4 linked regions of the Homo sapiens genome follow. The protein of the gene in region 2 interacts with the protein of the main gene of each other region in a pairwise test. Each region holds a gene or a part of one and is shown on either strand. Other genes may lie near its edges.

Region 1 (8,028 bases), on a different chromosome or scaffold from region 2:
CCAGGATCTTTGTTGTTGGTGATGGTGGTGGTGGGGGCACAATTTAGAACAGACAAGTCTTCTGCACCCCTCATTTCAAACATGGACACTGCCCAATCTAGTACCTAGAGCATAACAGGCCCTTAAAGAATTTTTATTAATTTGTAAGTCTCGCTTGAAGACTCAAGTCCACCAATGATTTCACTGAAAACAGTATTTGTAGGTTTTAATTTTCCCCATTCTGAGAAAGAGCTTTTATTTTTTTAAACTTTTTTTATAGAGATAGGGTCTCACTATGTTGCCCAGGCTGGTCTCCAACTCCTGAGCTCAATTGATGCTCCCACCTCTGCCTCCCAAAGTGCTAGGATTACAGGCATGAGCCTCCATGTCTGGCCCAAGAAAGGGCTTTTAGGAACTCCCTGCCTGGGAACGCAGGCCTATCCTGTCTCACTGGTCAAGGCCCTTGGGCGTGGGTTTTCACTCACCAGCATCAGCTGAGTACCCACTATGGGACTGGCCTGAGCTTGGTGAGGGGGCCTCAAAGATGAACAGGAAGGATTTCTGCTCTCAGTGAGAGGAAATCAGTCATGAGAAAGATTGAAGGAAGTGACACCTGAGCAGAGGTTCAGATAGGAACAAAAAAGGCATGTCAGGCAGACAGACAGCATGAGCAAAGGCCTCCGGTGTGAGAAGACTTGGAACTACAGAGCAGCTAAATGTCCAAGCACTGCTGGTGTGTCAGGATCTGGGGAAAGAGGATGGACATGGGCCTGGACAGGTAGGCAGGGACCAGCTGAGAAGGGCCTATGGCTTGGCTAAGGAGTTTGGACTTGTCCTGAAGGCAGTGGGGGCCGAGAGAGGGATGTCACTGAAGATATTTCAGCAGGGGGTTGTGACATGTCCAACTACTCTGATAGCAGAGTAGTGTTATCTTCTAAACTGAAGGCCTTCAGGACAGTTATGGGCCTTACCATAGAACCAAGAAGAGCCCCTATGGAATATACAGGGTTGTCTAGTACTCCACCTCAGGTTTGTTGTTGTTATTGTTGTTGTTTGAGACTGGGTCTCACTCCTGTCACCCAGCCTGGAGTGCAGTGGCATGATCTCGGCTCACTGCTGCCTCAACTCCCCGAGTTCAAGTGATCTTCCCACCTCAGCCTCTGAGTAGCTAGGACCACAGGCATGTGCCACCATGCCTGGATAATTTTTTGAATTTTTAGTACAAAAGAGATAGGTTTTCACCCTGTTGCCCAGGCTGGTCTCTAACTCTTGGGCTCAAGCAATCCTCCAGCCTGGGCCTTCCAAAATGCTGGGTTTATAGGCATGAGCCACCATGCCTGGCCCACCTTAGGTTAAAGAAAACCATGGCTAATCAATAGTATTGGGTCTCAGCTTGTCATCATTTCCTCAGAGAGGGTTTGTCTCCCTGGACCAGGTTAGCTCTCCTTGCCACATGATCCTGTGGCACCCAGAACATCGTCTCCTGACAATGTCACTCTTGTTCAATGCCCATCTTCCCTTCAGGACCCTAGGTTCCAAGACAGCTGGAATTTTGGTCTTTCTTACTCACTGCTGTCCCCCCAGTTGCTTGCCCAGTGCTGGCACTAGTAGATGCTCAATAAATATTTCTCGAATTAAGAACAAGAGTCACACTGGAGGGATGATCAGAGAGGTGAGCCAGGGGAATGTGATTTCCCTCCTGGCGATCACTGTAAATGAAACCCAGAGGCTGGGAGAGTTTCCTAAAACAGAAAGTTTTAATCCGGGCTCTGTCATGTGCCCACTAGATATATTTCACTCTAGTGTGCCTTGACTCCTCACTTATGAGGTGAGGTAGGTGGACAAAAGCGATTGCTAGGTCTCTCTCTCTTTAACCCCAACATTTTATGCATGAAAAAATATTCCTTGCCTATGACTCTTCTCTTTCTAGGGTTTCTGTGTTTCAGAAAGATATGGCCATTGGTAAATTAAAGAAGAATAACATCATGATTTTAGCCAGAGAAACTGAAATAATCTTACAAAGATGAATAATATTTAAAACGAACAGGTACATCTGGGCTGTCTGGAATTTGTTCTGAGAAAGGAATATTTATTTTTACAGGATGAATTAAACTGAGTTCCACCCACTTTTATAAAAAGCAAGATTTTTTTTTTTTTTTCAGAGAGAAAGAGCCAGAGCATAAGAATCAGCCCCACCTCCTGCGCTCTCCCTCTGGATTTTGCTGAGATTTGGTGAAATATCTGAGACCTGTTCCTCTCCTCCCTGCTTCACACTTAAAGACAGAGCCCAGCAGAGCTGCTGCCAGGATCCTTCCCCCAGTGCCCATGTGCACAGCTGAGCTGCCGGAGGTGCTGAGTGAGAGGACTCCTCCGTGGGGGGAAAACCCAGCCAGCAAGCAGGAAGCTACTCACCGGAGGTCTCTTCCAGACGAACTGGATGGGGAACTTCTGGCTATAAAAGAGAGAGGTCTCATCCGGTGGGAACTCAGGGTCCACATAAAGAACTTTCTTTTCTAGACATTTCTTGTGAAGTTGCTCGAATGTCTTCTCTTTCACTCCGATAATAGGAAAATTGCGGCTGATGATGGCTGAATAGATGCCACTTGGGTTTCCACCCCCAGCCTCAGTGGCCTTGCTCTGGGCCGGGTGAGGAACTGGCCCTGGGGACCGGGGCTCAGCCGCTGTCCTTGGAGCCACAGATGCGCTAATGACGGTCGGCATGGCAAGTGGCTTTGGAAGAAAAAGCTTTTTAAAGAAAATAAGATACAGCTACCTTCAAGGAAAGGAAGCAACTGCAAAGGGGAAGTTGGAGTAATTCTGTCATCTGAGAGAAAAGTGTCCACATCCAGTTCAAAGTTGAAAGCCCATCAGAAGGTCGTACAGGTTATGTCCATCTTAAAAACCGAGCTGTGATTCTGAAGCCATAAGTTCTCCTGAGAAATGAGTGCTAAAGGATTTCTGAAGCAATGTTGACTTGGGGGTCTCCTACCAGCAGCATGCATGCCAGAGGGAGAGAGAAAGAGAGTGAGGGTTGTGTTTCAGTGGCCTGAAGATGCTTGAGCCAGGAAAACTAAAAATAGATGTGAAGAAACACTGTGAGTATGAGAGCAAGAGAGACTGCATGGTAGAGAGAGAACCTGGCTAGGGACATTTCTGTTGCCATGAAGTGCTGGTGTTGCCAGAAAATGAAAAGGGAGTATCTGAGTAAGGTGAACACTGGAAAGAAGCTGAGAACTGCTGACATGTTATTGAGTAGGCAGTTATACAGACCACCCAACTACTGGCCATCAAATGAATGGAAAACAATATTGCAAAAAAGCTAGTTAGGGTGAACGGGAGGTACTGAATTCTACAAAAATATTCTGTGAATTTTAGAGAACATGATTTTTAGTCCTAAAATTTTAGGATATCAGAACATTATTCAATGTTAGATTTGGTATCTTTTTTAGAATGTTCTTGGGTCAGCGCTCATTGGAAATGTCTGCATGGAAAATGCTACTCAGCAGAGTCCTCATTTGAGAAAATCCCTGTCTCTACCTGCACACTTGACCTTGCCACCTCTTGTCTCTCCCCATCCACAAAATGAACACTGGGACTGAATCTGCTAAAAAGTGGTCCTGCTGGGCCATGTGGCTCACGTCTCTAATCTCTGCACTTTGGGAGGCCGAGGCGGGTGGATCACATGAGGTCAGGAGTTCGAGACCAGCATGGCCAACAATAGTGAAACCCTGTCTCTACTAAAAATACAAAAATAAGCCGGGTGTGGCGGCGGGTGCCTGTAATCCCAGCTACTTGGGAGGCTGAGACAGAAGAATTGCTTGAACCCAGGAGGCAGAGGTTGTAGTGAACCCAGATCACGCCACTGCACTCCAGCCCAGGTGACAGAAAGAGACTCCGTCTTAAAAAAAAAAAAAAGTGCACCTGAGCAGAGAAAATCCTCACTTAACATCATCGATAGGTTCTCGTAAGCTGTGACTTTAAGCAAAATGATGTACTGTATAGTGAAACCAGGCTAACTGATATAAACAAGAGTTAAGTCCCTACAGCACACGGTATGTTTTCGTTAAAGTCACAGTTTACAAGCACCTATCAATGATGTTAAGTGAGGACTTACTGTACAGGTTATATGTTGACTCATTCAGCCATGCCACATTAGGCATCTGAGACAGAAGTTGGAATTAGATACTGAACCAGACTGTCTGTCAACTCCTGGGATGTCACACCTGGTTTCAGGGCTCTTAGATGAGAGCATAAGTGGCTCTGGGGAAGGGAAGTGCCTGCCTGGCCTCCACCTTGTCTTCTACCCACAATAGCTGCTCCCTGGGCTGTAAGGAGATGAGCACATTTCAAGTATGGCAGAGTGGAGGCATGTCCTAGGCTGCAGTCATGCCTGTTCCCATGCGACCAGTCTCAATAATCCAAGATTAGAGGCTATGGAAGAAGGTGGGAAGTGACAGGTAAAATAGGGAGTACTATCAGCCTCCTGATCCCTGGGATTGCGGCTTTGAAGGACTCTATGTCTGGGCTTGCAGGAACCATCAGCCTAGCCATCTGTCCCTCCAAGAAAATGCCCAGGGCTTTTTACTAGTCTTGGAGAGGCAGAATAGAGGACAGTGGTCTCTGGTGACTGACCACCTCGGTTCAAAGTCTAGGTTGGCCCCTTATTGGCTGTGCCTGTGTAACTTTAGGTGAGTTATTTCTTCCTTTCTGTCTCAGATTTCTCACCTATAAAATAGGTACAATTACAGTCATTCTGTTATTAGGTTTTGGTAACAATTAAATAATTTATGTAATACATTTTACACAGTGCCAGGATTTTCTTAAGCACTCAATAAATGGTGTTGTTAGAGAAGACCTGAATTTAATATTACTTTGGAGTTAGATCAGGTCGAATGCTACATTTACTCGCTGACGCAAATCAGCATCCACTCAATGGGCATTAACTGAATATCTGCTATGTGGACAGCACAGGAATAGGTATAATCTGCCCAGGCTCATGTGGTATGCAGCATCTCCAATCAGAAGCTGGCCTATCTGCCTGCAACAAAAAGACTGACTTCCACCCTCAAAGTCACCAGTGGCATAGACAGCAAAGGTGGGGTTTCTTTCCCCCACTGTCATAAGTTTGGGTCCCAGCCTAGCATTCTATCCCACCCTGAAATTCAGAGCACTGACCCACACTGTATTGTTTTTGCTTATTTAACTTCCCGTTTGCCCATAAGACCGTGGAGCTGGGAAGTGGGTTCCCATTTCCCTCTCAGGTTTAGAAGGCCCTTAATAAATGCGTGTTATATATCTGGTGAATGAAATTTTCCTATGCAAAGAGAAATTTCTTACACTTCTGGCTTTGCCAGTGCAATCAAAGTTTCTCTGCTGATCTGCTCCAGGCGAAGGAGCTGTCTTGGGCCGCATACCCACTGAGCTTTCTTTCCTCAGCTGTCTCAGCCAGCACCATCTGTGAGTAACTAACAGAAGTGTGTGACACCAGCGAGCCTCTTGTCAGAGCAGGGTGGGCATATCAAACACAGAAAGGGCAAGGTGCCATTCATTTTGCTCTGTCAGTTGTTGTGGATAAAACATTCTCTCAGATGAACAGGTCCAAACTCAAGGTTTATTCAATGGCACAGCTGTGGAAACCAATGCTATCAGGGAGAAGTCCAACTCGAGCCCATGAACAAAGGGCAGATAATGAACACATAAACAACTGCACATTTCAATTCCCAGAAGCCCCTTCAAGGATAAAGAACTAGTTTTTATAACATATTTCACCCACGGTCATGTAATATCTGTGGCTGGAATGGTTTCTGCTGCACAGCATTGCCAACTAATGGCTCTGTCTTTTCCACCAAGAAGCATTTCTTTGATTACTAACACTATTGGAAGCAATGTCTTTGCTTATCATTATAATACCTCTCATTCATTAAGTGCCTACTGGGAGCTAGCCACTTCACAGAGACCTTTAAAAAACTTTTTATTTTAAAATAATTTTAGACTTACAAAAGACTTGCAAAGACTTACAAAAGAGTTGCAAAGATAGTGTCCTCCAGTCTCTGATCATTCCACAGTCTTTGTCTCTCATGACCGTGACACTTTTGAAGAGTACTTGTCAGGTTTTTGTAGAATGACCCTAAATTTGGGTTTCTCTGATATTTTTCACATGATTAGACTGAGGTTATGGATTTAGGGGAAGACTGTCACAGATGTGACATGGCTACCTCCTCAAACCATATTTGGGGGCACATGATATTGATAGGTTTTATTACAGGTGATGTCAACTTTGATCACTTGCCTAAAGTGATGTTTACTGGGTTTCTCCCTGGTAATGTTACTATTTTTCCCTTTCTGTACACATAAGATATTTTAAATTTGTAGAAAAACTCTGCAAGTTTCACTAAGTCCATTTTACAACTGAGGAAACTTGAGATATCTGCTGTATTTTGACAGTTAAGTATCAGAAAACTCACAAAATTTTAGAGATTATCTCTCTTTTTTTTTTTTTAGATGGAGTCTCTCTCTGTCACCAGGCTGGAGTGCACTGGTGCAATCTTAGCTCACTGCAACTTCCGCCTCCCGGGTTCAAGCGATTCTCCTGCCTCAGTCTCCTGAACAGCTGAGATTACAGGCATGTGCCACCATGCCCTGCTAATTTTTGTTATTTTTAGTAGAGATGGGGCTTCACCATGTTGGCCAGGTTGGTCTCGAACTCCTGAACTCAAGTGAACCCCCTGCCTCGGCCTCCCAAAGTGCTGGGATTACAGGCGTAAGCCACTGCACCCAGGCTAGAGATTATCTCTTTTCTTTAACAAAGCCCAGAGAGGTCAAATGCCATGGCCAAGATCACTCAGCCAGTTCACTGTAGAAGCAAACTAGACTCCAGGTCTCTTGATTTCCTTGGAAGTAAATGCTTGACTAAGATTTAATTGATGTGAATTAGGTATAAGATCTCTGTATCCTTGCATGTAAATAGTCAGGCTCCCCTTTCCCTGGCTCTGATTGGACAGCAATCTAATACCGTCGGCCTGGGTGGAAACAACTGTCAAGAAGCAGCTGTTGCACTTTGGGAGGCAGAGGCAGGTGGATTACATGAGGTCAGGAGTTCGAGGTCAGCCTGGCCAACATGGTGAAAACCTTTCTCTACTAAAAATACAAAAATTAGCTGGGCCTGGTGGAGCATGCCTGTAATCTCGGTTACTCAGGATGCTGAGGCAGAAGAATCGCTTGAACCCGGAAAGCAGAGGTTGCAGTTAGCCGAGATCGTGCCATTGCACTCCATCCTGGGTGACAGAGCAAGATTCTGTCTCAATAAAAAAAAAAAAAAAAAAAAAAAAAGCAGCAGCAGCTGTCTAATTCTGGCAAGTCTTCGTGTGGCACTATAGCCTTTAGCAAGGCTTGTCATGAGACAAGCAGATCTGATATAAGATGCCAATGTCTCTGCTATTTCTCCTAGAATGCTAGCTATATGGCCTCCATTGTCAGTGGCTAATATGATAGCCTGTTTCCAGTGGAGCTGCTGATGGCTTTCTACCCACTGGCCTGAGAAGTTATTTTAGTCTAGAGTAGCCCTTCGAGGGTTTGGTAGGTGGAAATCCTAGGAATCTCATTACTAAGGCTTTCAGGCAGAGTGGTTAATTAGCTAAAAACTATTCAACTCCCAGTGTTTATGTGCTTTGACTGTGTTTCTGCTGCTTATCATTTTGATGCCTTGATAGTGAAAAGGATGTGACAAAGTGAAGGAATTCTGCACACAGACCAAACTCCAGAATTGTATTTTTCTTAAAACCAAGAAAATTCTTCTATATGATCCTAATACAATGCTCAAAAGTAAAAAAATTACCATGTAATCAAAAGATCCCATTCCAATGTTGCCAACTGTTCCAACAGAGGAGGTAAGGCCAGGCACAGTGGCTCATGCCTATAGCCCCAGCCCTTTGGGAGGTCAAGGCAGGAGGATTGTTTGAGTCCGGGAGTTCAAGACTAGCCTGGGCAACATAGTGAGACCCCCACATATTTTTATTAAAATTAAAATATTTTTTATATTGTTGCCAGATT
Region 2 (3,631 bases):
GGAGTATTTGCTGTGACGGCAGTGGAGGGGTTTGTGTCAGAAGAGGCTTCCTAGAGGAAGTGATTCTTATGCTGAGACATCCCAAGGAAAAGGAGTTAAAGAAAGGCGGGAAACTGTCCTGGGCTGGGGACTCTCTGTGCAAAGGCCTTGGGGCAGGCAGAGACCTGGCCAGCAGGAGGGACTGAAAGGAGGCCGCATGGCAGAACAGAGAGGAGGGAGGCCTGGGACAGGCTGCGGAGGGGGCGGGGCTGCAGCGCCCTCCTGGACATCACTGCCTGCACACACCCGCCACTCCCACCCCCAGACTCTAGTACAGCTGCCCGCTCAACTGCCCCCACACTTGGGGCACCATCCTTTGTACCCCAAGGCCCCAGCCATGGACCTCATCCAGGACCACATGCCCCAGGACTCCTCCCACAATCCCCTTTCCTCCCTTCCCCCCAGCCCAGTGCAGGGTTCCGGGAACGCAGCTCCCTCCGAGCACAGAGTCCTCAGACGCATGAGAGCAGGTGGGCACTGGCTTTATTTGGGACCTGCTTCTGGAAGGCGCAGGGCTGCAGGTCTCCTGGCTGGGTGCTCAGCTGGTCACACCAGCAGCTTTCCCCACAAATCCCAGGTCTAGGCCAACCCTGGCCTGCGGCCGCTGTTACCACCTCAGACACTGGTCTAAGTCCAGGGCAGCCTGGGATCCCTACTCCTCTTGACCCCAAAGGCCAGCAACGTGGGCTGACACCCCTCCCCGGGGCATCTTTGGACGGGTCCTGCATCCAGCAGGGATGTGGTCATCTCTGTCCTCTCAGGGCCTGGGAGCCAGCGGGTCTGGCCGAGTGTTAGGGTGGCTTCCTGGTCTCCTTCCTTAGCAGGGAGCTGGCCACAGCCAAGGCGCCCCCCTGCACAAACCTCACGAAGTTGTCCCCGGCCAGCGGCCCCATGGCGTACAGGCCCTCCTGGCGGGTGCTCTGGTAGGTGAAGGGGTCCACGTCAATGGGGTTCCTCTTGGCGCTCAGCGGCTGGTCAGGATCCACTGCAAAGTCAGCCCCTGCCCCAGGCAGGAAGGAGAGGTCGGGGTGGGAGCCGATGAGGACCAGCACCAGGGAGACCCCAAACACCTTCTCGACACCCTCGAGGTCCTGGAACACGGCCTGGCAGTCTTCCTTGAAGCACAGCAGCTGGTGCCTGGGGAGGCTGCGGTAACCCTCATAGGGGCTGGGCGACAGGATGGACTGCTCCCGCATCATCTGGTGCACCTTGTGGTACTCGGGGTACAGCATCTTGGGCAGCTGGTTGAACACCAGGCCAGGGTCGTCCACGGCCCGGCGGAAGGCATGGATCACCGGGATGTTGTAGTGGCGGGCGTAGAGGACCGCGTCGGCCGCTGACAGCCCCGCGCCAATGATGAGGACAGGGTCTGAGGCCGGGGTCACCGCACCCACCCTTGTGGCGGCCTCCAGGGCAGACAGCTCATGGTGGATGAAGGGCAGGGCCTCCCCGGGGATGCCCAGCCGGGCCGGGCTGTCGAACGTGCCTGTGGCGAGGACCACGTTGCGGGCCCACAGCGAGAAGGGCTGCTGGGCCTGGTTCCTGGTCAGGAAGCCGCTCACCTGGAAGAGGGGGCTGGAGTCCTGGGCCCCACAGCTGCTGGGATCGGGGGTCCCCCACTCCACGGCTGTGACTACAGCACCGGACACAAAGTTATGCCCCAGACCCTTCTTGACCACGTAGTCCCTGTAGTAGTGGGCGATGTCCCCGGCAGTGGCCCGGCTGTTGCGAAGACCTCTGTTGGGGAGGATGCAGGACGCCAGAGTCAGACACTGTTAGGGGTTGGGGGGCTGGGTGGGACGGGAGATGTCCAGGGCAGTGTCAGGCCCTGGAGCTGGACTAGGCTGTAGCTGTAGGACTAGGCCAGGTAATTCAACCTCTCTAAGCCTCAGTCTCCTCTTCTGTAAAATGGAGCTAACAAGGGTGCCTCCCTCAGGAGAGGTGGTGTAGGGTGGTGTAGGATGCTCTAGGGTGGTGTAGGGTGGGGTTCAGAGGGCAGCCTCCAGAGCCCCGCTGCCTGGGCTCGAATCCTGACTCTGCCATCAGGGAGCTGTGTCTGTTTCCCCAGTTTGCAAAATGAGGAAGATGTTGGTGGCAGGACCTATTTCGTGAGGTCGTGGGGAGGATTTGGTGAGCTGACAAACACAAAGTGCTTAGGATGGAACCTGACTGGAAGTAAGTGCCATGTAAGGATAGGCCACCATGATTGTCACCTCAAATGATTAAATATGGTATGATTCCATTTTTACAGAGTTCAGAAACAGGCAGAACTCATCTATGGAGCTGGATGTCAAGAGAGGGGTTACCTCCGGGGATGGGGAATGGGATCCTGATCAGAAAGGGCATGGGGGCTTCTGGGAGGGGGCCTGCTTCTTCATTCTCTGTGCTTACCTTGAGAAATTTCATCAACCTGTACTCACAGGAGTTACGTACTTTTCTATATGTAGCCAATTTATTATTTTATTTTATTTTATTTTATTTTATTTTAATTTTTTGAGACAGAGTCTCACTCTGCTGCCCAGGCTGGAGTGCCGTGGTGTGATCTCAGCTCGCTGCAGCCCCTGCCTCCCGGGCTCAGGTGATTCTCATACCTCGGCCTCCTGAGCAGCTGGAACTACAGGCATGCAGCGCCATACCTGGCTAATTTTTGTATTTTTATTAGAGATGGGGTTTTGCCATGTTGGCCAGGATGGTTTCGAACTCTTGACCTCAAGTGATCCACCAGCCTCGGCCTCCCAAAGTGCTGGGATTACAGGCTTGCGCCACCGCACCCAGCCTATATGTAGTCAAAAAGTTGATTTAAAGTTGATTTAAAGACTCCCATGTGACGCACTCACCATCGTTCCCAGCCCACGCAGCAGCAGGAGGTATTCTATTATTGTTGTTGTTGTTTGGATTGTCACTCTTTCCAGGGGCAGTGACTGCAGGCCCATTCTTGTGGCGGTTGAATGACAGGCTTTGCATCATTCTAGCACCTTCCTGTATCTCACTGTGTGACCTTAGATGAGTTAATCTACCCAGCTTGTGGGCTCATGGTTCAAGATGAACTCCCATACGGGAGAATCCTGTGCCACCTGCCGTCCGGCTACATGTAGCAGGAGCTGACAATGGACCCCCAAGGCCGTGCCAGTCAACCCAGCGCAGCCCGTCTGCGACCCTGGAATTTATCTCTGTGGGCAGTCATTCTTTTCTCAGTTTTTGTAAAGATTGTGACACAGAACGGTCCCAAGAGCATGTTCTGTGCAGAGTTATTTATAATAATGACACAATGGAAAGAATGAATGCTCCAGGGCTGGCAGGGGCTGGGTAACCTTGGCAGTGCCATGAGGCAGGGGGTGTGTCTGCGGTGGTTTTGTGCTCTGACGTCTAAGCCCAAGGCCTGGCACATAATAAGCATTCGGTGAAGATTTGCTGGACTGGGGATGCTCACTCGCCTTTGGGAATATTGTGAGGCCATGTAAAAGGATGGTTTTGAACGCTGTGACTTCACCACATGAAACGCTTGGGATACAATGTGAAAATGCAAAATGAGCCTATAAAAGGCTGTGCTTACAAGCGAAATGTAAGTTTCTGGCTGCCTACTAACATGTAG
Region 3 (5,884 bases), on a different chromosome or scaffold from region 2:
TCCGCGCATCCAGACACCCGGACACCGGACTTTCTAACTGAGTGGCAACTTGTAGCGGAGGTCCAGGCTCCTTATCAAATTGCTGGCCTGCTAGCTAATGGAGAACTTGTGGAGGATCCCTGTCCAGTCCCTTTGAAGGAAGGTCCCTCCTTTGACAGCTGCTAGAGATATTAGCCACATTTCCCTTCCCAAATCTGCTCCGGGTTAACAGGCCCGCGGGGGCGGGAGGGGGTGAGGAGGCAGGAGGATCCTGGTGGACTCTAACGAGGGTGAGAGCTGAGGGGCGTGAGGGGTGCTGACCTAGGGGGTGGAAGAGAGGAGGGGTGGACGGAAGACACAGACTTTCCTGGTCTTTTCTCTCTTTTTCGTTTAAAATGTGGCTTCTTGCTCAATTCCCAACCCTTAACAGATGGCGACTGCAGTTCTCTCAGAATTTCTTAAAGAAAGGGAAACCTTTGGAATTTATTTCTGCTTTTGCTTTTTCATATAAATAAAAAAGTGTTTTTATATTACTCTTGTTTTGGAGAACATAAGCAATTTTATTCAGACTACAGTATTTCCTTTAACACTATATGGTTGTCAAAACACCATTCCCAGTTTCTTTGCTTTTGACAGCTGAGTCTTTCTTAAATATACCCAAATCGGAACTCTTTACACTAAATAGTAAACCCGAGATAGGAGCAAGTGCCTTCCGGGGTGGTGTAAAAAAAGCATTATAAAAATTGGACAAATCTATCACTTCTCTGTGTTATCATGGGGTTGGGGGTGGGGGAGAGCAAGGTAATGCAAACAAATATTACAATTATCATTCATCTCCAAATATTTAAGAAGGTTAAAGTTAACATGATAGGACGTGGGTTTGACGAATAAACTAAGCATGAGATGACTTTATTCATTAAAACCAAGAGTTGAGAGCTCTGGTCTCTAAACTTCAATGAGATAACTTGATAATTGCATAAAACACATCCTAAACACGAGCCAATTGCCAAGGAAACCCTTCAGAATTTACTGAGTGGAAAGAAAAAAAGGTTCTTTTTCCCACCTGATGTGAGAGTTGATTTATAATGGGGAATTTTCATAGTTTACATAAAAGTATTTAAAGTAAAAATAGGCAAATATTTAAAATTTACAAAAAGACTTCATGTAAAATAGAATAGCAAAAATGAGAGGGAAGCTATCTCTCTTTCCCAAGTGGCACTGAATTTCTCTATTAAGTTAGTTTGTGTCAGAAGCATTATTTCTATGTTTAAACAGCAACACAACACTTAAACTGAAATGTATTTGTAAAAATTCTACCTGACTAAATATAACACAAAACAATAGAAGTGTATTTCCTCGTTCATTTATATAGAACCTCCATAAATGCTGTCTGAAATGGAAAGATGGAAGAGCCCCAAATAATAACTATGGATTTCTTCCAAGTTTAAGTTTGCAGAGATGATGAATAATTTCCTTAGCCGGTTGACATCACATATCTAGCCAAAGTATATGACATTATTCTTTCTAAACAAAGATTCAAAATTTAAGAGTTAAAAAATTCCAGGATAGTATATTTATTTGAAAATTGAGGGGACATGCCTCACCCTTTTTGCACACTTTAGCAGACATTGTTTGTGCAGTATCAATAAGCTAATGGTATAGATTTCCAGGAATGTTGCATAAAATTTTGAAAATGGCATTATACCGTCCATTTTGTTTTGTTTTGTTTTCAGAAAAAAGTTTAAGTTTAGTTATCAAATCATCACACTAGCATCCCTGCACATGGATGTGTCTGAAATAAAAATATACCACAATATAATTTATAAAATATTAATGATTAAGTAATCTTTTAAAGTCAGAATTTCAAACTCCATAGAAGTTGTTTACTTATCTATGAACACCCATATGTAAATTTTCATTTACATATCCAACAATATTGTAGTAAGACAGGCAGAGGAAAAACACAGGCAGATAAATTACCTTTGAGCACAGACATTATTTCTTATGTTGTAAAATTAACCCTGAAAAGTCCTTTATTCTGGCAGAGGATGCCCATGAAAAGCTTTATCTGAAAGTATATATTTTTTAACGTCATGCATCTAAAAAGGAGGTTGAGCATGTTCAAGGGGATCTTTCAACCTGGCTCATCATGTACACATAGTTTCGTACCTTTAGAAGTTTTCTGCTGGTGGAACTTATAGGTCAAATAGACATTGAAAGGCTATAGATGATTACCTTAAAAATTATTGATGAGTTTAAAATATACTCAACTGCTGGGGGGAAAAACCTACTTTTAACACTGTATAGAGTTGGCATTGTGCAGTCTTGTCCTAAAACCATTAAAAACGCAAAAGCCTAACAAAAAATCAAAAATGAAATATTTATTACCGCTTTTTGTGACTTAACACCTTTTTTTTTTTAACATAACGTCACAGTCCTCATACAAGTATTTTAATGTAAATTTGACAAAGCTTAAAGGTAACAGCATTTTCTTCTAGTGAGGAACACGTGCTGAGAAAAGAAGAATTCATGGACATACAATACCAATTCCACAGCAGATCTGATACTAGCAAAAACATTCTTTTTTTTTTCAATTGAGGTAAACACATAGAATATCTAACATGAAACAATTAATAGACCGAACTCTGTACGAAGTTTGTTACAGTATTCTCTTGCTCCTTTTTATCCCCCAAGCTTTGAGTTTCTGATAAAGTCCTAGTTATGGTTCAATGACCATTAATAACTTTTTTTTGTGTTGAGGAAAGCTGCCCAACTTAAGATTGTTTTGTCCACAACCAAGGCTCAGAACTCCTGGAAGAAGCTCCTGCTCTGTCTTTAAATCTTCATTGGCAAGCTCTTTGAAGAAGAGTCCCCCAAAAATAATAATAAGAATTGGCTTATGAAGCACGAACTATAAAGATCTGTTTGAAACTAAAGGACACATTTATGGAGGAACAAAGGCCGGGCATGAAAACACATTCTTGAAGCTGGAGTTCGAGTGATGAGGTTCAGCCAAAAGTTCATCATGATCTCCAGTGTGGTTCTTTTCTCATTGGCCCAACAGGTTTAAAATATATACCACAGTCTCTCCTGGATGGTGAATTCACTGATGAACCAAAACAGTCATTCTTTTGGGAACAACACACATAGTGTGGAAAACAAGGATATATTTTTTTTTCTCTTCTAAAACTATTTGAGGCAACATAACGGCGTGATCAACAGAAATGTACAAGTTTAACTTAGTTCCTATATTTATACTACAGTAGTTATAACTCTCGGAGTCTTTTTCCAGAGGATCTTTACATGGACAGAATTGTCTCAGTCAGCCCATGATTTCACATTTGTGTTCTTGTTGCATTGGTCCTCTGTTGCTTGATGAAAAATGACAAAAGTAAAAAATAATCACAGCTGTCTGGAATTTCATATTAAGTGTCAACATCTGGTCAAAGTTCAGAAAGTCTTAAAATAGTTTTTGCGTGTGTTTCCTTTTCCCTTGAGTTCCCTTATACTATTGGGCATGAATGTCCATAACCTGTCCGCCAACATTGGGATCTACAGAATTTAACATTGTGGGGCTCTGTGCTGACATAGTCATTCCAGGGTGGGTAGGGGGTCCTCCGTGCATCATCATGGCTGGGTGGTGGGGATGGCTTGGCAAATATGAATGCATTGGGGGTCCATGTCTTAATTGAGTAGGGTGTGGGGTCATCTGGGGAGGAGTGTAACTTGGCTGTGCCATACTCATTCCCATAGGACCACCCTGAGAAACGTAGTCCCCTGGCATGCTCTGCAAACCTGAAAATAGAGAGGGAAAAAGAAAGCGGGTCAAATTCCTAAACATTTTTATACTTTACCCATCAAAGATGAAAAGAAAAAAAAAAAAAAAACAACAGACACTGCAAATCTTATACCTAAATTTAGCTGCAGATTCTTGCCAATGTTTGCAGACATTCAAATTGTAGTTTGCATTTAATTTCATCGCACAGCAGTATAATGCAACACAACAGAACTAAATATTTAATGCAACTAAATGTCATAAAGTGGAACTGTTTTTCAAAATGGTATTCAGTACATTTCTTTGATAAATGCAATAAGAATATAAATTTTGAGTCGAGTTTTATCAGTTAACTGTTGATAGATCATTTATTTTTCTGTGTTGCATTTGTAGACCTGGACAAAAATTGTAGATAGTAGAATAAAATAAAATTGACATCTTATCATATCTATATTTCCTCATGAAAAATTTATTACACAAAACATTACAGCATATTCATTTTGAAGAAATGAGCTTTTACGTGTATTTAAAATGAAGCCCCCTTTTTGAATTAGAGGCATTCCTATAGCAGTACACCCAAGAGATTGTAAAGGTCAAAGGTAAGAAGTCAATGTGAGGTCATATGACATGCCCGGTAGTTTATCTCTGAAAATCCCCCCAAATAATGCCTTGATATTAGGAATAAAATGTAATAAATGTAGAAATTCTCAATTGAGATATGCAACATTCAAAGTTATGAGTTAAATGGTGGGAAGTCAGCAATTGTAAGGATTCTGATTTCTCTTACAAGTTACCTGTTTATTGAATTAAGGTTATATTTACTGTTGCACATCCCCGGATCTAAAAGGACAGCTTTATTCACCTCTATTTAACCTCCAGTGCATACAGTTGAAAAGCTGAACAGATGTTTTTGACACTGTAAGCTGGTAATCTAAAGGCTTATATGCTGCAGTCATTTTGTTAAGTAGATCCGCAGTCCATTATTAACAGAAGTGGCAAAACCATCTAAAGACAATAACACAGCCTGCATAGTCCCAGCTCTCTGTTTATTCTACCACAGCAGCCTGCTCAATGGATGATGATAATTAAGTACCAAATATACCATATTGTGTGGCTGCATAATCAAATCAAGAGAGGATAATATTCTTCTGTATTAAGCTATTAATGTAATTGGTCATGAAGCATAAAATATGTTATGTAATTAAATAGGCTAGAAATTATATGGCCTATATTAAGAACTATCCAAGCTGAGCAAATGTTTTCTCTATAGCTGTTTTAGGGAACATTGCTTTCTACATTTTTTGACTGCATTAGTAAAGGAAGGAAGGAAGGAAATTGGCTTCATCAATGGTGTGCCGTGGTGACCCCCTGAGCTCCCCTATAAAATGTTGGCCTCTATTTACATATAGAGAATGATTTAATCAAGGTACGTGTTGTTATATTCAGCCTCATTAAACAAGGAAGTTTCAATGTTATATGAATTTTTTTATGCTCTGGTGTCTTCAGCAAAGGATATATCTTGTTGGCAGACTCTGAATTTTTTTCAGATGTCAAAAACACTTGAAGCTTTAAAGTCTAATGGGTTTCTTAATCCAACTGCAGCCATTCAGCCTCAGTGAAAAATCCATTCCTTCATATTCAGTTGCTCCTAAATGTCTTTCCCTTTAAATTTATTGACTGACTTTCCTGTCTTTCTGTCTCATGTCGGAAGTCAGTAGGCACATGTAAAAAATAATCAAAACACACCGACTCCCTAGTGAAGAATCAATGGTGTCACTGCTGTCATATATCTAGACTAGGCATAATGAACTGCAGCATTTCATCTTTGCATATAAGATAATTTGGGCATCAATCGTATTCTGACAGATTTATGTCACTCAAAGGACAGTTCTACTTTTCCTTTTTTTTTTTATCGCTTCATTGAAGCCTGCTTAATTTCTCTCAGTCAACTGGTGCCCCCAAGACATTATTTTTATTCTTAAATGTCCAATATCTGCCTGATGTCTGTGTTTGTGCACATTGGGGCCACAGTAAATAGGCTAAAAGGCAGTCCCACCTGCTTAAAACACACGCAGGCTTGTCAGTTGGCCTTTTCAAAAGTGCACATCAGTGTCATCTGTGACTTCAGAG
Region 4 (7,038 bases), on a different chromosome or scaffold from region 2:
TAGCTCAATGTCTGTGCTGCCTTATTTCTGGTCTTCTTGTAAACACTGGATTAAAAAGGAGAAGAATGCATTCAGTAGAGGCAAAAGTGCCCCCCAACACCCTACCCATGGTCATACACCTGGTTGTATGGACTCCTGTGTGGTGCCTGCTGTGAGAGGGTAATTGGGAAAGAAAAAGACAAACAGATCCCTGCCCCTTGGAGGTTACAGCCTGGCCATTAAAGGAAGCATTAAAAGTACACAATGCATGATAAGACAGGGGAGTGCAAGGCACCCATATAGCATCCAGCCTGACATGGCGGAAGGGCTCAGAATGTGATCTTTCAGCTGCTAGCTGAAAGGATAAGTGCTAGATTAAGGAAGCAGAAGGATTCTATATAGAAGGCATCACATGTGCTAAACAAATGCCCTGAAGCAGAAAAGAAATGTAGGAAGGGACCTGAAAGAAGGCCCTGAGGCTGGAGCAGAGGGGCTTAGAAGACACCAGGACTTCCAAGGCATCAGAGGAGGCAGAAAAGGTTTGGGTTTTTATCGTAATAGGATCATATGATTTGATAAAATAATATGATTTGATAAAATAATGATTTTATCGTTTGATAAAATGATATGATTAGACAAAATAATGATTTTATCAAATGATTATCTGAGGAGTTTTATACAAAGGAGTGGTCAGATCAGATTGCCATGTATAGAAGACTGCTCTGCTCCCTTTCTGTGGAAAATGAGTAAAAGCTGACAAGACTGGAGATATGCTCAGGTGTGTGCCCAGGTGTAGACATGGGGAAAACAGGATTAGGGCTTTGCTAGGAGGAAACAGCAAAAGGGCTGAAGAGAGAGGGACTCTCGGCTATCAGTAGGAGCTGGGCTCCAAAGATAGGCCATGAAGTAGAGACTCCATGGGGAGGGACAGACACAGGAGCGGCTGGTGGTAAGAGGGAGGATTAAGACGTCAATGGACTGGAGGTCCCAAAAAGGCCAAGGACTGTCGTGGTGGGAGGAGATAAGAGGACAAGCCCAGAGGACAGGATGCCGATGTGCACAAAGACTTCAGAGGTGGGGCCATTTCAGGGTATGATAACATTCAGAATATTAGTCAGTTCTTGTACTGCTGATAAAAGGTGGCTTGACCAAAGGTAGCTATCTATGGGGGAGTGTTAGAGGAAGAAGCTAAAGAAAATAAAAGGGCAGAGCCCAGGTTGCTGAAGAGGCCCACGCCAATCCAGTCTTCAGTTCCTGGAAGAATCAGAGAAACTCAACTAAGCACAGGGTCCTCCAGGATGACAGAATTAGAGGCCCTTCTAGGAGCTCACATCCCTCCAACCTCCCTACCTCCACCACCCTCTTCACCCTAAATGCTTGGCTTGACTAAATAAAAGTGGCCCTCTCTATTCACAGCATTTAGAGGTCCGTGAACTGTTCAGCTTGTCCTCCTAGGGCAAGGCAAAGGTTGGTATCATAAGCATGAGTTATTGATTACAAACCTGGTCTCCAGTCTCATGGTCTCAGTCTTTGCAGCTGAGCTCCATAGAGTGGCTGTCTGCTAGCAAAACACATATGACCACGTATCTTGTCTCTCCACTAGGCTAGAAAGTCAAGGGCAGGCCATTATGCTTCCTTCAGTTTCTAGGACCACACCTCATAGGTAATATCAATAGATACTCAATAAAGAAAGAAGCAATCCTATTTATATAAAGTTCAAAACTGGCGAAACTAATTTAAAGTATTAAAGGTTAAAATAATGGTTATATTCTCATTGGGGAGGGTAACAGAAATGGAGTAGTAATGTTTTATCTCTTGATCTGGGTACTGTTTATATGGATTTGTTCAGTGCAAATTTATTGATCTCTATAATTATAATTTGTATACTTTTCCATATGTATGTTACATTTTGATATATTTTTTAAACATGTGAATGAATCAATCACTTAATCAGTGGTAGAAACTAACTTAGCCTGAACTTGAAATGCTTCCCCCAATATAGGATTCAAACTGCAAGCTAAGGCAGGGGTTGGCAGATATTTTGTATAAGAGCCAGGTATTAAGTGTCTTATGCCTCACAGACTGTAGTGTCTCTGTCAACAACTACTCAACTTTGCTACTATGCTAAAAAAAAAAGTAGCCATCGATACTGCGTAAATGAATGAATATGGCTGCGTTCCAATAAAACATGAACACTGAATTTTCAATTTTATATCATTTTCACAGTCCTCAAATTATATCCTTTTGATTTGTTTTTCAATTATTAAAAAAAAATGCTTAACTCTTCTTAGCTCTCCAGCTATACAAAAACAGGCTGCTGGCCAGATCTGGCCCGTAGGAAGTAGTCTGCCAACTCTTGCACTAACTGAGTATGCACATAAAACACATTTCCTGGCCCGCACACAGGCTCAGCCTGTCTTTCCCCCAATCTGCCCCTCTGTGCTCTCCCACCTTTATAAGTAGGCAAACACTCCATCTTGTCGCTACATGGATATTTACTGTCCCGAGGTTTGATGGGGTCCACTCGACAGACAGGGTAGGGATTGTAATCTTTCTTATACGTCGTGAGCAAATCCATATTCTCTTCACTCGGGACGAACTGGTCATACTGGTGGACCTTCACTGGTGCCACTTTGTGAGGCCCAAAATCTCTCCTGTAAGGAAGCAAGTGCATGCTGTTGGGGTCCTTGGCTTGCGATAAGGCTTATGTTTTCTGCTCAACCCAACTCTACAAACATTTGCTGAGAAGTCCTGTTCTACTCTACCTGCCTTCCCTCCTCCCCCGAACTGTTTCTCCTCTATTTCCCACTTTTGAGAAGGGTACCATCAATTCCTTCTCACCCAACTCAGACACCTGTATTCATCTTTGACCTCCTTTCCTCACGGCCCCAGAGTCTATCACCACCAGTGCCCCTCCACCTCATTGGTTTTTCTTTCCCCTTGGTCCAGATCCTGACAATTTCTCACTAACAGCCTGCCACCTGAGCTTCCTCCTTCATTCCTACCACTTCTATTCAATCACCATAATGTGGCCAGAATAAACTCTCTAAATGGAAATCAGATGGCTTTCCCCAGTTTAAAACTCTTCCAGGTAAAATTCAACTTCCTGGCATAATTTATAAGCCTTTCTGGACCTGGCTCCTGCCTGACTCACCCTTGTCTCTCACGATCCCCACCCCACCTGAAAACCCTGCACTCCAACCACAATGCCACCGTTTCTACTGCTGCGCTCTCCACCTTCCTTCCACCCAACCCCTTCACTGCGGAGGTATCTTCCTTTCAGGTGCCGCTGCCACCTTCTCTGTGTTCCCAAAAGCTTCTCCTGCTAATGTTTATCTCTTTCCTCTACTTAGCCTACAGAAAACCCAGAAGAGGAAAACAGTGAAATAACTGGAAACCCTGACTCCTTCATTTCTCTGCTATCTGGTGTCTGCGCCCCCATTGTTTCAGGGAGTACCAAAACAATAGGATCGAAAAAGTATAATGGTCTTCACTAAACAGGAAGCAGTCCCTCCCCAAAGCATCCCAGATAAAAAGGCCCAGATGCTCACTGCAATGCCCACCAGGAACCGCCCTAAGGAGCCAGGGCTTAGCTCGGACTTGTGTTGCCCTCCAGGGCACTCGCAACTTCCCACCTCTCAATGCTAACATTTCCCTCTGAAGGGTGTCTGTTTTACACAACAAACTGTTTTTGCCTGGAACCCATTTATTCAACTGGACAAAGGGAAGGTAGATTTTTCCTGATGGTGCTTGCCAGAACATCCCTGTCAAGGGAAGGGGAAGGTTTCCGGACAGGAAAACGTTAGGCCCAAACACCAATAAAACCCACTTCCTGGCCAAAATCTGGAGCAGCATTACTCAGCCATGCTTGACTAGCAAAGGTAACACGCTCCACTGTAACCTGTCTTGCGTGAATTATACACATGATTGTCAGTAAACCCGAACCGGGTCCTGAAAATGCTTAGTGGGATGGGAGAAGGAAGTTAGGAAGCAGGAGAATTAGTCTCTCTAGGGCTCTAAGGAGGAAATGGGAGATGCTTCAGTTGAACTCCCCTAACACCCTCTGGGTAGATTTAAAAATATATCTTAGCGGCAGTTATAGGACATTCAGCCTGGGCTCCCTTCCTAGGGGCCCTGCTGTTAGCCTGAAGTGTCTGGAAGCTGACTGTACATATCGGGGCTTATGGAGGGAATGGACTGAACAAGCAGCCAAGGGTCAGCTCCTACTTCTGCTGTTCTCAGTGAGCAAGTACTACACCCTGGTGTCTATTCAGCACTAAACCAATTGTAGCAGGGAACTAAGAGGGTAAGTCCTTAGGCTACAAAGACAAATGAAAATGCCCAGAAAACTCCATCTGAAAACCAGCTGAGTGGAAAGGGACTCTTGGTCAGAAAGTGTACATTCTAAAGGGAGTGCTCCCAAGGGAAGTTGAGCTCTCCTCACTCTCAGAAGGGATGGACAGGTTTCAAGGCAGCCTGAGACCACACATTCCTAAACCCTTATAAAAGCCTGTGCTCAGTGATGGCTACCTAAGCCTACACCCTATTCATTTCCAAGGAGTATCAGGAGGTACCAAGGGCATGCAGTGAGGAACAAAGCTGGGCGCCTGAGCTGCCGTGCTGAGCCCACCCAACCTCAGAGCATCTAGGGATGCTTTCCAGTTGTGAGGCTGCCACTCTCAGGGACCCTGCACACAGAGTCCATAGCAGCCTCTTCTGCAGTTACTCTGACCAAGAGGACCAGCTTCCTCTCAGGGATGCCGCAGAAACCTCCCTTCAAAGGCTGCCAGACTCTTGAAAACTAAAGCACGCTTATTGCGCATCTCCCACGGCTTCTACCGGAAAAGAGCAGACAAAAGCCCAAAACCAAATTCACCAGTTCACAGACTATTCTGAAATTGGTTTCCCAAAGACAAAAGCCAATCGCCTTTTCCAGTATAAAATTTAAGTTCCTTTGTAAGTGTTCCTCTATGGTTTAATTTATTGATCAGCCATAACTAAGGCAAATGATTATGGGGGGTGGGGGGAAGCGGTATCTACTTCTGAAGAGAAGAAAAATTTTAAAGTTTGACTTTTTTATAACCTACCCAAACATAGTTACTGTGGCTTAGGAGTGAATTTAATCAGAATTTATGTGTTTCCTCATTATGTTTTTATGTTGAGAACATTCACTGAAACCTGTCATTAACCGCAACATAACTGCATGTCCCCAATCACACATAATCTTACAGCCTTTAAATTCACGTAAAAGAAAAGTCTATATTTTAGTCTCCCCAGAATTGCTCCAATTAACTAGCTTTTCTTTTTAAGAACACTGGATCTCCCCTCTCTTTCTGTGGTACATTTCCCAGTCTCTGTGCACATGTGACATGAACCAAGAAAAAGAAACTGGTCAGAGAAGTAAGTTTCTTTTAGGTAAGTAGCTATAAAAGTTATAGAGTAGGGAAGGCCAAGAGTTAAACTCAGAGTTAAGTAAAAAGTTGGAGTGGTCCTGCTGGGGAAGTCATAACAACTTGACTTCAAATCATTTAGCAAAGCTGAAGAAAGGTGTTTGACAACTCTCTGACAAAAGGAAAGAGGAAATAACGTAACAGTGAGCTAGGGTCCTGAGCCTGGCAGTGGGAAATGAAGATTTTCACCATGACAAAGGGCCATGCAACACTTTTTTTAAACCTGTTTTTAATGTTTATTTATGCAAACTTGAAGATATATTAGTGTGTCCAAGTAATCAATTATATTAAAATGGAATCCATCTTAAAAGGAGTTCCTCCTCTTGGCCAAAGCCAACCTCTCTCACCCCTGCCCTCTTTCTCGGGAATCTCATCTGCAGACCATCTCCTAGGCCATGCTTTTCTCTCTTCCTCCCTACTGCCTCCTTTCTCCATTGAGTGTTACCTCCCATCTTTAAAGGTAAAGAGTAAAACAAGACACTATCCTCACTGAGCTCCATTCTCCTCCAGTTTTCCCTTCTGTCTTCCAGAAAGTGTTGTCTACAAGTACAGACTTGCCTTCCTCTCCTCATGTCCCACCCATCAGATCTGATTCCCCTCACTCCTGGATACTCCAAGCATCACCTTGTTTTCCAGACCCAACCGCTGCTTCTCAACCTTATCCCACTGTGGTTGTTCATAGCATCCATCCTCTCACTCAATTTTTCAATACTCTCTCCCTTGACTTCCGTGATACCACTCCTCATGATCTTTTCTCCATGTCTTCTATGGGGTTCTGCTCTTTGTCAGTTGATTTGATTGACTTTGTCACTTCTATATGCTATTCTCAAACTTCCCAATGTCAAAAGGCACCCTTCTAGAGAAACTATTCTCCCATCCTAGGCAGCTTGGGGAGTCCATCCCATTGTGCTGCAAAAGATCCTTGGCTGAATCACAGGGTTTGATTCATGCCCCTGGTCCTTATGGGACACAGAGTCCTCCTTACCTTCACTATAACAGATGGGATTCCAAGCCCATGCACTCCAGAATCCAAGTTACATAGCACCTGTCTTCTCCTCTGCCCTCTGAGTCCCTCAACTCCCACTAAGGCTGAGGCAAATATCTGTCACCACTTCATATAAACCCTAGGCAAACTATTTCAAATGACTTTAAAGCTCTAAAAAGGTAGATTCTGGGGAGAGCCAACAGGTGGAAGCAGAAAATGGCACTGTGTGAGGCTTCATTGCTTAATTTTCCATTAACTATTTAAGATTCAAAGCTTCCAGCCTGAAGGTCAGCTCCAGTCTGTGCAAGGGAGGGCAGCTAAAAGGCAGATCTTTTAGGTAATCACCTTTTCTTGACTACAAAAACCAGAAGGCTGGCCGGGCACGGTGGCCCATGCTTGTAATCCCAGCACTTTGGGAGGCCAAGGCAGGCGGATCACCAGATGTCAGGAGTATGAGACCAGCCTGACCAACATGGAGAAACCCCATCTCTACTAAAAATACAAAATTAGCTGGATGTGGTGGGACACACCTGTAATCCTAACTACTCGGGAGGCTGAGGCAGGAGAATCGCTTGAACTCGGGAGGAGGAAGTTGCGGTGAGCCGAGATCGTGCCACTGCTCTC

The links.
Region 1: the proteins of OSGIN1 (region 2) and CAPN3 interact in binary tests that used the Homo sapiens proteins (3 or more experiments, as listed by UniProt).
Region 3: the proteins of OSGIN1 (region 2) and MEIS2 interact in binary tests that used the Homo sapiens proteins (3 or more experiments, as listed by UniProt).
Region 4: the proteins of OSGIN1 (region 2) and SAXO1 interact in binary tests that used the Homo sapiens proteins (3 or more experiments, as listed by UniProt).

Annotation. Positions count from the first base shown.
Region 1 is NC_000015.10:42,354,478-42,362,505, reverse strand, and holds the start of CAPN3 (calpain-3), read right to left. Parts: upstream 3,006-8,028; 5' UTR 2,701-3,005; coding exon 2,392-2,700; intron 1-2,391. UniProt on the Homo sapiens protein: Calcium-regulated non-lysosomal thiol-protease. Proteolytically cleaves CTBP1 at 'His-409'. Mediates, with UTP25, the proteasome-independent degradation of p53/TP53.
Region 2 is NC_000016.10:83,963,207-83,966,837, reverse strand, and holds the end of OSGIN1 (oxidative stress-induced growth inhibitor 1), read right to left. Parts: intron 1,777-3,631; coding exon 831-1,776; 3' UTR 506-830; downstream 1-505. UniProt on the Homo sapiens protein: Monooxygenase catalytic activity. Involved in regulation of cytokinesis; promotes RHOA activity, probably acting locally at the midbody in late cytokinesis.
Region 3 is NC_000015.10:36,888,686-36,894,569, forward strand, and holds the end of MEIS2 (homeobox protein Meis2), read right to left. Parts: intron 3,775-5,884; coding exon 3,488-3,774; 3' UTR 519-3,487; downstream 1-518. UniProt on the Homo sapiens protein: Involved in transcriptional regulation. Binds to HOX or PBX proteins to form dimers, or to a DNA-bound dimer of PBX and HOX proteins and thought to have a role in stabilization of the homeoprotein-DNA complex.
Region 4 is NC_000009.12:18,939,207-18,946,244, forward strand, and holds part of SAXO1 (stabilizer of axonemal microtubules 1), read right to left. Parts: intron 2,634-7,038; coding exon 2,431-2,633; intron 1-2,430. UniProt on the Homo sapiens protein: May play a role in the regulation of cilium length. Stabilizes microtubules at low temperature.